Linked DNA regions of Homo sapiens: region 2 is linked to region 1. The links come from fine-mapping of genetic effects on gene expression. Tissue or cell type: whole blood. Region 1 holds a variant in brackets; the other region holds the start of a gene. All regions are shown on one strand. Distances are from middle to middle.

The links. PIP is the estimated chance that this variant, and not a neighbour inherited with it, causes the effect.
Region 2: it holds the start of ZNF703, and the variant in region 1 is fine-mapped to the expression of ZNF703 in whole blood (TOPMed, PIP above 0.99).

The regions. Positions count from the first base shown.
Region 1 is chr8:37,547,846-37,555,945 of GRCh38, forward strand. All of the region lies in intron 1 of LINC01605 (long intergenic non-protein coding RNA 1605), which reads right to left. Among named protein-coding and RNA genes, the nearest start is that of LINC01605, 48 kb to the right of the region's middle. RefSeq lists enhancers at 1-473, 474-973, 7,957-8,100. The variant G/A (reference allele first, on the strand shown) is at 3,705.
Region 2 is chr8:37,692,496-37,700,595 of GRCh38, forward strand. It overlaps ZNF703 (zinc finger protein 703), which reads left to right and starts at 3,287. Exons shown (of 2, transcript NM_025069.3): 1 at 3,287-3,727; 2 at 4,650-7,524. The coding sequence starts at 3,485. The coding sequence ends at 6,179. LOC124901932 (a long non-coding RNA gene) reads left to right here and starts at 1,435. Exons shown (of 2, transcript XR_007060887.1): 1 at 1,435-1,505; 2 at 1,920-2,288. It overlaps LOC124901933 (a long non-coding RNA gene), which reads right to left and starts at 3,186. Exons shown (of 2, transcript XR_007060888.1): 1 at 2,945-3,186; 2 at 2,250-2,488. RefSeq lists silencers at 1,926-2,110, 2,898-3,247, 3,298-3,397 and enhancers at 3,132-3,675, 3,676-4,218, 6,652-7,163.

The DNA.
Region 1 (8,100 bases):
TTGGGCAGTGGGTAGACACATGGCTGGGCAGTTGCTGGCTGGCTGGGGAATCTGTTCATCTCGCTGGGGCTCCAATTTTGGAGACCACACAGGTTGTCAGTCACGCCACGGCAACAGCACAATAGAACAGAGAGTGGGGACATGTTGGGGCAAACAGTGATGGAAGATGTTTAATAGAATTACCATTAGGCCTCGAGTTAATGAATCACAACTGCAAGAAATCATGATAATCCAGCAGGCATTAGTGACAGATTAGCTTCAAAGCTGCCATAAAAGTGCCATAATGCTTACCTAACGGCATGATTAATTCTCCCAGTGCATAATGGCTTTATGGGGGAACGAGGCACCAACAGAGGCTTGATGGAAAGCCATGCCGAGATCCCAGAGCACAGAGGGTGTTCCCACCCTGCCCAGCCCATGTGGCTTCCGCTCCGCCCGGAGGAGACTTCAGCCACTGCATTGTGGTAGACAAAGTCGAGGCTCAGGCTCACCCCAGAGCCATCTCCCCAGGAGCCCCTGCCATCTCTCCAATGCTGTGCCCCTTACCAACTGACAGTTATCCTAAGAGGACACCCCAGTCCCCAAGATGGGCCCCTCCTATGACTAGCACTGGTGCCTGGAGAGCCCCACCCCAAGTCCCCTGATCAAAGGATCCAGCATGGAAAGATCTGGAAAGACTGCTGCACTAGGAACTCACCACAACTCCGCCCCTCACTAGCTGCGTGACCTGGCAAGTCACTTGAACTCTCTGGGCTCAGGCAGCCAGGCTCTGAGTGTGCACGCTTCACCACCAGACTGCCTCCCTATCTCAGCACCTATTTATTAGTCCCTAACTTCTGTTCCAAGCATGATCTGAATCTCCTTGTATATTTCATTTCATCCACTGCCCATAACATTCCCATGAAATAGTTAACCCTGTTATCCTCACTTTACAGATAGGGAAACCGAGGCTCGGCAAGGCGAGGTAGCTAGCCCACAGTCCAACTAGGGATAGATATGGAACCAGGCAGTATTCCCTAGTTCCTTGCTTCTCTATCAGCCTCCTTCAGCCCTAATACCACCAGTTTAACCTCAGGGGAAAAGCAGCTGCTTGTGAGACACCGAACATCATCTTTTATGAAAAAGACAGGATCAGCACTACTCAATTCCCTGCCCCTTCCCCTTGGCAGTGGAGGAACCATGAGCTGGAAGGCAGGAGATACAGACTCTCCTGCTCCTGTTTACCTTGACTCTGTGGTTCCCATAGTATTACCTGGGCACTTCACCCTTCTGGATTTCTGTTTCAGCTTCTCTTTTAGAAAAAGAGAATAATAATAATAATAACAATAATAATAGCACCGTGCCTGCCTGGCAACAGGGAGCTGAGCCTCTGGGCCCCTGGAGGCTCAGATCTACCGGTGCCCAACAATCACCAGAGCCAGGGCCGCTTTGCTGAATCATCCCCAGACTCTACTTCAGAGGCTGCCACTGTGGTCCTCCCATCATCCCATAAATATGGAGGCAATTAGCATGGAGCTCAGGTCCAAAGGGAATTCTCAGAGCCCTGTTCATCTTCATAATGTTGAAGAAAACCCTCTAGGAGGCCCGCGTCACTGCTGCGGCAGGCTAGCTGCTTCTGCTCTGATTAGGGATCCAAGAGACTCACACAGCTCCCCTCCTATAGCCCTCTCCTAGCCCATAGTGCTCAGGGGCACCCACTAGACTGCCACTGAGAAGTCTATAAAAAAGACACTCCGTCCTCTCCTACCAAAGCATTAACAGGCTCCAAACTTTCCCAAGCTCTAGACTTCTTTTACCTTATTTTATTTTATTCTACTTTATTGTAGTTCACTTAGTGATAGGGTCTCTCTGTCGCCCAGGCTGGAGTGCGTTGGCACAATCATAGCTCGCTGCAGTCTCCAGCTCCTGGGCTCAAGCGATCCTCCTGTCTCAGCCTTCCAAGTAGCTGGGACTACAAGCACATGCCACCATGCCTGTTAATTTTTTTCATTTTTGTAGAGCTGTGGTCTTGCTATGTTGCCCAGGCTGGTCTCAAAATCCTGGCCTCAAGTGATCCTCCTGCCTGAGTCTCCCAAAGCTCTGGGATTACAGGTGCGAGCCATCACACCCAGCCCTATGTTCCTTTTAAATTCCAGAATCAAAGGGCAAACCATCACTCAATCAGCAAGTACTTACTTCCACAGGGCACTATAAGGAAAACCAAGAAGATCCACTTTATCCCTTTGCAGCCCTGGGTCCCAGAGTGGACATCTGCTAGCACTGCTGATGGCAGTCTCACTGCCAGTTCTGGGTGGGTTTTCTAAAGGCGACTATCTTTGTGATGGCCCATGTACCTCTCAAAGCCCCATTCTCTTGTTCGAGCTGATTGCCTGATGTATGTCGAGCTGACTGCCTGATATGTGTCAAACTGACCCTATCACCTTGGTTACAAAGCCATAAAATCCCAGGGTTGCAAGAGACCTCAAAGAGGTTTTTTCTGCCCCCTCCCAAAATCTAACCCCATCCACTATGAACTCCTCTTGAGTCAAATACATAGTTCTTACTTCAACATGCCGTGCCCAGTGAAAGCTCAATAAATATTTATTGATGGTGGTGCCCATGATGAATTAACAGCCAAAGCTATAAAATTAAAGTTTCACACAAGGAGAAACCCCAGTGAGAAAGAAACTGCTAAATAAAGTTTACAATTTTTCAAAATGACAAGTGTTCACACACACACACACACACACACACACGGCGTGGGAGACAGAAGACCACCATTCTCTAACTTGCCTATTCAAGGAATCGGAAAACAGGAAAGTCCTTCTCATAGAATATTCCTGCCTCAGTGGAGGGTGTGCTCAGCTTCTCAGAGGTCAATCAGCCTAGCCTGTCAGGATGTGCCTGGCCCTGGACCAAGCGTCTCACATTGTCTCCTTGCTGGAACCAAGAGCCAATGGAACAAAAACACAAAAACACAAAAACAAAATGGCGCTGTTTAGGGCTTTATCCAGTGTCTCAAATGGGCGAAAGTAAACACAAGGATATATCCAATTCTAAGGATGCTAAAACCTCAAGAAGGACAGACAGCTTAAAGGAGAATCCTTAACAAGATAATACGCACCTAGGAAAAAAGGCTAGGGTGTGTAGCTATAAAGAAGACAAGAACTTTGAGACCTATTGAGTAGAGACCAGTCATCACCAATCACAGCCAACCCTTGCAGCCCTTCCCCTGCCCCAATGTGTTTAGAGACATGAACACGCTGATTGCAGGTCTAAGAGCCTCCATCGTTCTTTTTAGAACCAACTGACAGAGCTAGCTTTTTTCTTCCCCCAGCTCCCTGGACTTCCTTGAACTGCAGCATGGAAGCACCAAAGCTCGCTTGCCGCCTTTCATTCTCCATCCTATGTGACTTAGCAGGAGCTCATGGGAACTGCTCAGTCAGGATCTTGTCATACCGAGCCACAGAGCTGTCTGGACATCAGGCAGAAGAGGGCCCTGCAACTCCTGATACCAAACCAGAGAGGACTGTTTACAAGCTGATCAGGTTCGTGGGCTAAAGAAAACCTCAGGCAATCTGGAACGGGGAAAACAGGGAAGGCCTTGAAGAAATGGATTAGACCAGCCCTGACAACATAGCAAGACCCTATCTCTACAAAAAAATTTAAAAATTAGCCAGGCATGGTGACACGTGCCTGCAGTCCCAGCTACTCAGGAAGTTGAC[G/A]CAAGAGGATCATTTGAGCCCAGGAGTTTGAGGCTGCAATAAGCTGTGATTGCACCACTGCACTTTAGCCTGGGTTAAAAAAAAAAAAAAGAAAAAAGAAAGAAGGAAAGATAAGGAAATAGATTCGAGTTTGTGCTAATCTTACAAAGTTAAGTGAGATCATACCCCCAGATTCTCTCCCACCAGAGGGAGCTGGTTGGAGCCTGGTTTTGCATTAGCCCAAAATGTTCTGATGCAGCACACCGTGGGGCTGGTGAGGGTTGGGTGGAGCTGGAGCAGACATAGAAAGGGAAGCCCTTGAAAACCAAAGACAGTGTCTTAGGGGGACAATCACACCATGCCCTTTCCCAGGTCCAGCCCTTTGGGCAATGTTGCAAAAGATCCCCCAAAAGAGCTTCTGCCTGGAGCAGGTCAGGAGCTGCAGTGTGGGGGCCCTGGGGCTGCGCTGCCTCTTCCAGTCTTCTCCTGGACACTAGGCCATTCTCCCTTTTCCAGCTCTTGCTCCTTGTCCAATCCTCAAGAACCTCTTATTTGAAAACTATGCTAGTGGTTGACCAGGTAACCAGAAATTTAGAAGACAGAGAGAGAGGCTGGGCACAATGGCTCACGCCTATAATCCCAGCACTTTGAGAGGCCCAGGTGGGAGGATCACTTGAGCCCAGGAGTTCAAGACCAGCCTGGGCAACAGAGTGAGACCTCATCTCTATTAAAACTAAAGAGAATAAATAAATAAATTAACTGGGCGTGGTGGCACGTGCCTGTAGCCCCAGCTACTCAGGAGGCTGAAGCAGGAGGACTGTTTGAGCCCAGCAGTCTGAGGCTACAGTGAGCTACGTTGCTGGGCGACAGAGTGAGACCTCTAGAAAAAAAAAAAAAAGAAAAAAAAAAGACAGAGAGGTTGGGGGAGGGGGTAATCTATGAAGCTATGGACAACGAACATCTCATGGCATCACCCTACCCTCGGCTTGGTAGAGTTCTTCTTGCGGGAAGACCACAGCATGTCCATGGACCGAAAGAGAACACCCACAGTTCACTTGGCAACACTCAGTGGGCCCTTCCCAGCCCAGGCCTGTCTTCCCTGGCTGCTGAAGGTGGCCTCATGATTCCGCTCTAATTTTTGGTGTGTGTTCCTGCCCAAATGGGGTGTCTGATCTTGTCATGGCCAGCGTTTGCTGCAGAAGAGGACCTGGTACACTTTTATAGGAACCCAGTTCTTCCCTGGGGCTAGACTCTAATGCTGTCCAGATGCAGAAAAACAGAAGGGCCATTCAAAAACAACCGAAATATCAACACACTTTGAAAGCGGTCTGTTAGCACTTGCCATAAGCACAATAAACAAAACAATGAAACCATCAGAAAGCACCGTGAGACAGTCCGGCTTTAGGAACTTGGCTTTGATGGCTTAGAAAAGCAAAGAAAGGGGGCAGAACCAGTTCCCACTTGGGCTGAGGCTTGTTTATTCTGCTTATCTGAAGTCAGAGCTAACAATCCTCATCTCGATGAAAGGACCTAGAAGTTTCTCCCTCACAACTGGCCCCTCTGCAGAGTAAGGTGGCCTTCTGCAAGTGGTCAGTTTCTGCATGTGGCCCATAAAACACCCATTTTATAACATGACTCCGGTCTGTTGAAAGACCCTTGTTTCCTCTGTGTTCCATCAACAGATGAGTGAGCTCAACAAACAAGAGCATCTGCTGGAGCCCTTACCTGGGTGGGCTGGTGGGAGGGAACCCTGAGGCAGGGTTCCAGTTGCCCCCTCCTCAGCAGTTAGCTACCCTAACCCCAGGTGAGTCTAAGCAGCAACCGAGGGGGCTGTTGGTTCTGCCCAAGGCCCCACTGCTGAGACCTTTGTCCTGCTTTGGAGGGAGAGACCACTGGGAGAGAAATGTCACCCGTCATCCCAGCAGACACTGCACACTGTCTTCCAATCTGAGTTGCGGAGCTGGGGCTGGGGCTGTCCCCCCGGGTGAAATGAGGCCGCCTTTTCACCACAGTCACTCAAGGTTATTTCCCACTGTCTCCATGGCGCAGGCTTTGCTTAATTCCCGAAGTGGGTGCTGGCCAACTCATCTATCAAATTACCCTGCCAGTGATTTAAGTGAGCTTAGTTCATTTGGGTGCCGTCCTCTTGCCTTTTGACTCTTAGTCAAGCAAAATAGGGGATTAACCAAAGGGGCGTAGGGGGACTTGACGTGGCTGTCTGTTGCGGGAGGCTGGAGGGCACCAGAAGTCAATGTGCCCCAATGACAGGGTGACAGCCTGGGAGGCCCAGGACATGGGCTCCGGTGCTCTGCTGTGCCTTACAACCATAGGTCCCTGTCACGCATTCCCCCGCCTCCCGCAACACACACACGGTGGCCCTCAGTCTCCTAAGCCCCATGGGTAGATGAGTCAGAAGACTCTACTTTGTTCTTCCTTCCTAATTGAAAAAGGCGGGGAAAAAAACAGATGCCAGAACAAAGGCACTAAACATACCTAGAGCAGGAACTCTCCCTTCTCTGCTCCAGGCCTGAAGACTGCAGTCTGCTTTACCATCATCCTCTTTCTTCTCTGTAGAACACGTGCAGTGTCTGCCAGTTCAGTCTGAATCCAGCTGTTTCCCTGGAACAGACTGTTACCGATTCAGCAACAATCAGTAAAAATTTAATGTGCCCAATCGCCGCCCTTTAACTCCTTCCCACATCTGAACGGGTGGGGATAATCTTGAGACCCAACCCCCAACTTCCCCAGATGGCTTTCACTCTATTGTAAATGCCACTCCCAGCATGAAGGGCCTACCCCCTCCACTCCTGTCTGGCCGGATGGGGACCAAAACAGCAAAGCCCAAGAGACTTAGGGTCGGATGCCTTCCAGAGTGGCCACCTTTCCATTGATTGGCTTCCTGTGGCACAGAAACATCCATAGGATATGGATTTTTGGAGTGAGAAACCTGTGATTCAAACCCCATCTTTAGCCCACACTACCAGCCAGCCTCTCGACGGCTAATTCATCTATTGTAAGGACTAAAAGAGGTCATGTCTAGCCAGGACCAAAGCACAGCCCAGCACAGAGTACGTGCAATAAATATTAGCTGCTTTATTCTCATCTTTGCCGAAATTCAGCTGTCCATCAATCCACAGACAAGTATTTGTCAGACGCCAGTTAAGCGCCCAACACAATGGGAGTTCAAAGGATACAGATAAATAAATCAAGATCACTGCCTTGGAGGCACTCCCAGGATAATGGAGAAGATAAGCAGATCTTTAGAGACAGAAAATGCTTTGGCAACACAGAGTGACATTCTTATGGGGGCCATAGGGGCCTGTACCAGCTTAGAGTCATCCCCATGGTGCTGCTCCTTCTTGACTAGGTGACCGGGGATCAGTTACCTAACCCCTCTCAGTCTTGGGTTCCTCATCTGTAAAATGAGGAAAATAACATCTATCTCATCAGGCTGTTGTCAGGATTACATTAAATTAAATTAAATAATTCCATTGACTAATTTAATTTGATTTAAGTTAATTTAACATGACCCTTATCAGCTGTGTAACCTCCTATGGGAAATGTGGATAATAACTGACCTGTTAGCTGTATGTGGTGGGGCACAGCTGTAGTCCCAGCTACCTGGGAGGCTGAGGTGGGAGGATCCCTTGAGCCCAGGAGGTCGAGGCTGCAGTGAGCCATGACTGTACCTCTGCACTCCAGCCTGGGTGACAGAGTGAGACCTTGTCTCAAAAAATAATTATAAAATAATTGGCCTCCTTTGTAGGGATGTTCTACAGATTGTTTGTTAATACATATAAAGCTGTTATTACACTCTAGGATGTAAGTGCCCTGAGGGAAGGATTTTGGTGTGTTTTATGCACGGATACATTCCAAATAGAACAGGGCCAGGTACATAGTAAATAATACTAGTTTACTGAATGAACTGTTGAATGCCACAGGAGAACAGAGCCATTCCAAGAAGGCTTCCTGGAGGAGGCAATGCAGAAAGGTGAGCAGGAGTTATCTAAGCTGAGAAGATGGGCGGGGCTACTGCAGAGGAAATAGGCAGGAACCAGGACAGAGCACAGGGGAACAGGAAGCCTCAAGCAATCTAGTATTTGGAGAGTAAAAAGTACAAGTCAGGCAGGGGCAGGAGGTAGAGATTCTCTCCCAAATGGTCCAGTGGTTGATCTTAATGGGGCCAAACACAAACACACCCAAGATACATACCCAGGAGAAATGTGAGCATTTGGGAAAAAACAACTTCCATCGGCCCCTCCTGAGGCCTCCAAGTCACTGGGCCTGATTCAGGAGAGCAGAAATAGCATTTCCTGTGAGCCCTTCACCTCTGGGGAAGGTCCGGTCACAGGAGACCCTAACCCATCTGTCTGCGAGATTTCCAGCCCACTTGGAGAATGAGGCAACCATGCCTGTG
Region 2 (8,100 bases), 140 kb after region 1:
CTGTAGAATTCAGAGACAACCTGGGCTCTTCTGCTTGGGTTCCCAGGGCTAAATCTGGTGCTGATGTGGCTGCTCCCCTGAGCAATTGCTCCTCAGACACAAATGATGCAATCGGTTACAGCCATCATTTACCTTCAACTTTCTTTGTGCCAAGCATGAAACAGGTGACATGCATTGTCTGCTTCTGGTCTCCCAACTCTGAAGTGGCCACGCTTCCATTTTACCCTGGAGGAAACCAAAGCTTAGGGAGGTTCACTTGCCCGGGGTCCCCACAGCAGCCTGGTTCTGGGCCTGACTCTCTTCAGCTTGAACTGAGAATGATAGCAACACCTGATGTTTATTAAGCGCCTGACATACCGAACTGTCATTCTTCACCACAGTGTCATGGGGGCACTCTCAGGCAGCCCTCTCCCCTGTCCCATTTTAATGGTGGCCGCTCATTCCCAGGGCCATCTGAGGAGGACCTGGACAGTGGAAGGCCCCTGAGCCACGCATCTGCCACTTTTTTGCAGAGGGAGAACCTGTGTCATATGTCCTGAACAGGGATGTCTTACTCGGGCCTTCCAACCACATCGCCCTCCATAAACACAGCCCATCTGAATACAGAGCCACATTCCCTCCCAGGTGACAAGCCATTCCTCTGAAAACTACACTTGCCTTCAGGCCCCGAGGGCCCCATTTAGTGCTCTGTATAGGTTAGCATTTTAGCTAAGTGAATGGTGAATCCCAATTGTAATAATCATCTAGCAGTGTTTTAATTAGGCCTCTGGCCTGGCTATGCATGGTTTTTCATTTTCCCTCCTAAGACGTTTGGATGGATCCAGCCAAAGAAACCCTGCTGCCCTGACCAGCAGCTCAAAGTGTGTCCCTCCCGCCTTGCATGCTTTCAGAGGTGTGTCCTACCACTTCCCAGGAGGTGGGAGCAGGCCAATCTGTGTGCCCGTCAGTAATTACCACTGGGAGCTCAGGGAGTGAGGTGTTTTTAACAGGACAGTATAGTATTACCTAGGCAAATCCCCCATCACATCCTGCCAGTCTGTCCTTACCTCCTCTTCTCTCCCTTCCTTTCCTTCATTCACTACCTTTTTCCTTCTCTTTTCCTCTCCAAACAGAGAGTGAATATTCTATTGTCCTCTCTCTTCTCCCCTCTCTCCTTTCAGCTGCCTCCTGCTCTGTTTTCCAAATTCCTAAATACCTCTTCCCTCTCCCCTCCCCTTTTCCTCCTGACTTATTTCCCATTAATCATTTCTAACACACATCTGCTCAGGCCCTAGAAGGATCCCTTGGCTCCCTCTCACAGCTGGGCTGGTTACAATAATCAGGGAGACTTTCATCTTTCATAGCCTCCTAGGTCTCCCCTCTGCCCAGCTCCTCCTCCTCTGCGTTCCTGCAAAGGCCAGCCTCTCTGCACCCTGGCTTCCTTCTGCCCTTCCCGCTCTACACAGCAGTCTCCCGAAGGCAAAATGGCTTGTGGGTGGACACAGCCCTGCAGTGGACTTTTACAGGTGGTGTTTGCAGTGATGGCAATGGCTGCCCGCACAGAAGTCGGCATGAGAAGCCTGCCACGATGAAATAAATGAGATCACTCCCTCCCTTTTCATTCCCGCACCCCTCTTGCTGCAATGTGGGATCCATCTCACAGTCAGGGTACCCCTTTCCATTCGGCGTAACATGATTTTACCAAGATTAAAATTGGGGAACATGTAATTACAGCTTGTGTAATTTCTAAGCATTCTATAAGTGCTGCCCAAAATACAGTATGGATCCAGGGAGTGCACTTAGTTTTGGGTATGACTGATACTGCCTGGAAGTGGGGTCTGCTGTCTTCTACTACTGGGCAAGATACAGATTCGTGATAGCTATTTCTTTCTGTTTGAAGAGCTCCTTTGAAATCACCTCTCCCCATCTTGGGTTCTCAGGTCATCTCAAGGCGTCGGTCAGCGCGGCAGAGTCGGGAACCTGCCATCCTAGAGCAATACGCCCCGAGTGACAGCCCTGACAACCGGAGTGATGGATCGGGACTGGAAAAGTGGTGCTGGGAGCCAGGCAGTGACACCAGCGCGCCTCCACTGGCCGCCGAGCGCACGGAGAAGTGGGCTCCCCAGAGTTCGGCACCCAAAGGACCAACTTCGCCTCCGGAAAAGCGGCGGATCCGGAACTTGGATGTCAGGACTATGACTACGTAAAATCTCTGCCCAGGGCGAAGCTAGCAATGCACACTGTATCAGAAAGGCGCAGGGAGTCGGGAAGGGTATTGTTATTTTTAATTAAAAGTTTTTATCCCGAAATTTGCCTGGGGAAAGCAAGTGCTTTTTCCCCCGGAGTGAGAAGGATGGGGGGGCGGAGGGGTTGTGTTGCCGAGCAGCGCTTAGAGAGAGATCCCCCTCCAGGGACACCCGCCTCGCCCGTGATCTCGGTCTCTCCTCGTAGCAGCTGGGCGCGGTACAGTGAGGAACTTCACGCCCCTCAGCAGGACACGGTAAGAAGCCTGTAACACACCAGACACCGAGCCTCTAACGCAGGGCGCAGGCACAGCGCGCACAGCCTGGGGTCCCGCGCTTGGTCGCCGACCATGTCACTCCAGAAGGGAGACAAACTTGCAGGCTTCAGACAAGACGGGCTCAAAGTAGTTGGAGCTGCCTACGCCGCGTCCCGAGAACAGTGGGTGCCTCCGAGGCTCGGGCGCTTCCAAGTGAACACACCAAGGGGAGGCCAAGTAGGGGAAGGAGAGCGGGGCCGAGGAGAGCCGGAGCAGCTCTGGAGAAGGACCCGGGCTCCCGAGGCGAGGCCTGCCCCCAGGCGGCCTCTGGGAGAGGCTTGAACTCCAGCGTCCCAGAGCCCGCGCCGTGCGATCCCTCCCACCCCACCCCACCCCACCCCACCCCACCTCGGACACACACGGCGGGCGGGGTTACAGCCCCCGCCAGCATCACCCCCCACCCACCCAGTGGTGAGAAGGGAGAGAGGAGAGAGAGCGGCCGGAAAGGAGGACGGGGCGCAGAGCTCAGGGTCCCGGAGAAGTCCCGTCCCAGGCGGGGGACCCCAGGGCGAGGAAGGCCCAGTCGGGGGGAGGGGAGGAATCCCGGGAGCGGCCGAGACCGAGGCAGCGGCGGCGCGCGGCGCGGCCCCTTTAAGGCTCTCCCCGCCCACCGATGGAGCCGGCCTCAGCCCGCCGCTCTCCCCGCCCCGGGGTCCCGGCGAGAGCTGCGATTGGGCGGGCGCGGCGATCCCTTTGAAGTGTGGCTGCCGATCGCGGCTATTTGACGTGCGGCTCGAGGAAGGCGAAGGTTTTTGTGTTGCTAGCCGGGGCCAGCGGCGGTGGCGGCGGCGGCGGAGGCGTCGGTGGAGGAGGGGAGGCGGCGAGGAGGCGCAGCTCCCGCTGCACCGCGATCGACGCTGCGGAGCGAGCCCACCCGCCCCGGGAGCTCGCCTCCCCGGTGCTCCCCCGCCCTCCCCGCCCCCCCAGCGGCGCTGCCTCCTCCAAATGAGCGATTCGCCCGCTGGATCTAACCCAAGGACACCCGAAAGCAGCGGCAGCGGCAGCGGCGGCGGCGGGAAGAGGCCGGCGGTGCCGGCAGCGGTGTCCCTCTTGCCACCGGCGGACCCCCTGCGCCAGGCGAACCGGCTCCCGATCAGGGTCCTGAAGATGCTGAGCGCTCACACCGGTCACCTCCTGCACCCGGAGTACCTGCAGCCGCTGTCCTCCACTCCCGTCAGCCCCATTGAGGTCAGTCCCCGGCCGCTGCCCCCGGGCGCCGGCCCCATTCCTCCCACCGCGACCGGGACCCTGACCCAGCTCCCAGCGCCCCGGGGCTCGGTGCGACACCCAAGTCTGGTCACGCTGGCGGGCTGAGTGAGGAGGGGAAGAAAACCGAGGGATCAGAGCCCACCAGGGCTTCCCCAGGCTTCCCCGTGGAAGGGTCTCCTTCCACGCTCGCCCTTCGGAGCTCCGTGTTTTCTCTCGGATTGGATTTGCTCCTGGAGTCCCCTCTGGGTCCTTTACTTTTCCTCTGATCCCCAGTTTCCAGCCAGGAGTTGGTCTCTGCTGGGTCTTCCCCGCCCCCCACGCCGGGCTGTTTTCTTTGAAGCCCTGGCTGCCCGGGTCCCACTTCGCCTCTGTCCCATCCGGTGAGGGCGCACGGCGCCCTGGCGCTCCCGATCCCGGATCTTTCTTCCTGCCTCTTCCCTGGGTGCCCTCCCCGGGAGGGAGGGGCTACGGAGAGAGCGCCAACTGCAGCCCCTCCTTTAGAATCCGCGCTCCCCTCTCCTACCCCGCGGCGCCATCGCCAGAAACCCGTCCCAAGCGAAGTTCCCCCAAACTAAAGGAATAAGTTTTTTCCTGGGCCTGGAGGAGGGGGACATTAGAGGGAAGTGGCGAGTCACAGCCCCGACTCCAGAGACGTCACCTTCTCCCGCAGGGGTCCTGGGTGAACTCCTTCCGCAGGGCCTGCGGCGCACCCCGGGACCCAGCGGCAGTGTGGGCGCAGTTCCGCCAGCTGCCGCGCCCGGCCCGGCCCTCGCTCGCAGACCCTCTCCCCAGGCCCGCCCCGCCCCGTGGCGCCGCCGCCCAGCTCCCCGGGCGCCCCCGCTCGCCCCGCAGGCCTCTGAGTCTCACTCCTTCTCCCTCCCCCTGCTTCTGTCTCCCACAGCTGGACGCCAAGAAGAGCCCCTTGGCGCTGCTGGCTCAGACCTGCTCGCAGATCGGCAAGCCGGACCCGCCGCCCTCCTCCAAACTCAACTCGGTGGCGGCGGCGGCCAACGGGCTGGGAGCGGAGAAGGACCCCGGCCGCTCAGCCCCGGGCGCCGCCTCCGCAGCCGCGGCCCTGAAGCAGCTGGGGGACTCACCGGCCGAGGACAAGTCCAGCTTCAAGCCCTACTCCAAGGGCTCCGGCGGCGGCGACTCCCGCAAAGACAGCGGCTCCTCCTCGGTGTCTTCCACCTCCTCCTCGTCCTCCTCGTCCCCGGGAGACAAGGCGGGCTTCAGGGTCCCCAGCGCCGCCTGCCCGCCCTTTCCCCCGCATGGAGCGCCGGTCTCCGCATCCTCGTCCTCGTCGTCGCCCGGCGGCTCCCGCGGCGGCTCCCCGCACCACTCTGACTGCAAGAACGGCGGCGGGGTTGGCGGCGGGGAGCTGGACAAGAAAGACCAGGAGCCCAAGCCCAGCCCGGAGCCGGCAGCCGTGAGCCGCGGCGGCGGTGGGGAGCCCGGGGCGCACGGTGGCGCCGAGTCCGGGGCCTCCGGGCGCAAGTCCGAGCCGCCCTCGGCGCTGGTGGGGGCCGGCCACGTGGCGCCGGTGTCTCCCTACAAGCCGGGCCACTCGGTGTTCCCGCTGCCGCCCTCCAGCATTGGCTACCACGGCTCCATCGTGGGCGCCTACGCCGGCTACCCGTCTCAGTTCGTGCCTGGCCTGGATCCTAGCAAGTCCGGCCTCGTGGGAGGCCAGCTGTCTGGGGGCCTGGGCCTGCCGCCGGGCAAGCCCCCCAGCTCCAGCCCGCTCACCGGGGCCTCCCCGCCCTCCTTCCTGCAGGGATTATGCCGCGACCCCTATTGCTTGGGAGGTTACCACGGCGCCTCGCACCTCGGCGGCTCCAGCTGCTCCACCTGCAGCGCGCACGACCCTGCCGGGCCCAGCCTGAAGGCGGGGGGCTACCCGCTGGTGTACCCCGGGCACCCGCTGCAGCCCGCCGCGCTCTCGTCCAGCGCCGCCCAGGCCGCGCTCCCCGGCCACCCGCTCTACACCTACGGCTTCATGCTGCAGAACGAACCGCTGCCGCACAGCTGCAACTGGGTGGCAGCCAGTGGGCCGTGCGACAAGCGCTTCGCCACCTCGGAGGAGCTGCTCAGCCACCTACGGACCCACACGGCCCTGCCGGGAGCCGAGAAACTTCTGGCCGCCTACCCCGGGGCCTCGGGCCTGGGCAGCGCCGCCGCCGCCGCCGCCGCCGCCGCCTCCTGCCATCTGCACCTCCCCCCGCCCGCCGCCCCCGGCAGCCCCGGGTCGCTGTCCTTGCGGAATCCACACACTTTGGGCCTAAGCCGGTACCACCCCTATGGCAAGAGCCACTTATCCACAGCGGGGGGCCTGGCCGTGCCGTCCCTCCCCACAGCCGGACCCTACTATTCGCCATACGCGCTGTATGGACAGAGACTAGCTTCAGCCTCGGCGCTGGGATACCAGTAACTACAGCTCTTCCTCCACCCCAGCCCCCTCACCCTCCTCCCTCTCCCTCCTCCTCCCTCCCCACCTGCCGTCGCCGCTGCAACCTCCACTACTGCTTGACCCTGCCGGGATTCCCCACCCAGCCCTTCCCCACCGGACTGTGTATTTATTTACTATAATGTTAGCTTACAAGCTGGGAATATAAGTGCATTAACGGCCCACATGAGTCAATGGTATGCAAAAAGTCTGTGTTCTCCCAAATAATAATATTAATCCCACAAATAACGACATGATCCCCGCCCCTGTTCCTTTCTGTTATTTTTTCTTAGATATAAGTTTTACATTTTTTATTCCTTTTCCTCTTTTTTTGGTTTTGATTGGTTTGGTTTGAGGGAGAGTTGGGGTCTTTGGGTTCTTCTAGACGTTTTGTTTTCCCTTCCTGGGGAGTTTCTTGCATGAGTCTTAACTTAAAACTACGTTTCCGCCTTCTCTTTTTCCCTCTTCCCCCTTCATTCCCTCTTGTTTCCTTCCATTTGCGGTTCTGTTTTTGTTTTTTGTTTTGTTTTGTTTTGTTTTTTCCTTTGTTGTACAAGTAACAGAGAGGAGGTTTTTTTTGTAACTCATTTTGGGGGTGGAGGGGGCCACCTGGGTGGCAGGGGCCCTGGAGCTCTATTGACCTGGTACACTGCTCCGGGACTCCTCCCCCGCCACCCTCCGCGCATAGGGTCCTTGGTCTGGACCCTGCCCCCCAAAAGTAGGGCCTTGCTCCTCTACCTTGCTCTGAGCACGGAGAGCCCTGACCCCACCAGTAGGCTCGCCCCCAGAAGGGCCCAAGTGGCCGTCTACCGTCACCTTCCAGACTCCCGCCCCTAACACCCAGTGGCTACAGTGCGCCTGTCGGGGCACCTGGAGCGCTCACCTGGTTGAATTCAAAGTCCCAGAAGGCCCCGCTGGCGTGAAGCCGGCCCCTTACATTTTGCGAAGTGCATTATAGTCCTTGTTTTTCTCTCCCTCGTGGGGGCAACGACCCCTCCCCTGGCAGTAGGGGTGGGGTAGGTGACTCTCGCTAGATCCCTCCAAAGCAGACCGGTGGCGATGTCAGCGGATGTCACGAGCTCGTTAGCTGCGTTCGGGGAAGGTTGGGGCGTCAGGGAGCTCTCGGATCACAGCAGCCCCCGCCCTCTCCTAGGCCTGGCCCGGCAGAGCCCCCAGAGTGGACCCCCCAGCGACTGGGGTCTTCTCCCCACTCCTCCCTCCTTCTGGTCTGATGCGGCAGCGCGGGGGCTGCGGGGCCTGTTTGGGACGAACAGAGCTCTCCCTTGGTAAGACTTATTTTGTTAATAAATGGAATACTTGGCTATATTCACACCGTGGTGTTTTTCTCTCTTGCCTCGCCCACCCTCTTCCAGACACCTAAGCAGATGCCCTTCTTTTATTCTTGTTTAAAATGCCTTATGGTTTCCTTCTGTGATTTCCGTTCAAGGACGAGTTTAATGCCTTTCCTCAAGAAATGGGGGAGAAAAAACAAAACTTCTGCCAACGCATTACAAATAACATAAAACCACCTTTTAATTTTTTTCCCCAGTTGGTTATGTAGCTCCCAGCCTCACTTCAAAGGCCTTGACATTTCCTGGGGCCAGGGTGGAGGGTGTGTGTAAAAGTGGATTTTCCTCTGGGCCCAGATGCGACGTGCTAAGGGGGCTAAGAAGGGACCCCAGGACCCCAGCACCAAGGGCTCCGGCAGAGACTCCAGCAGCGCAGTCCTGGAGCCCGGCGGCCTGGCGGGCAGAGACGAAACGCCTTTGGCGCCACCTGGTGGCAGGAAGACGAGCGACAGGCCTCGGAGAGAAGGCGCAGCCCGCACTAGCCCCGACGGCACCTTGGTTCTTCTCATCTTCTGAACGCGAAGGATTCCTACCTGCTGTTTTTGTGGGGCGTTTCC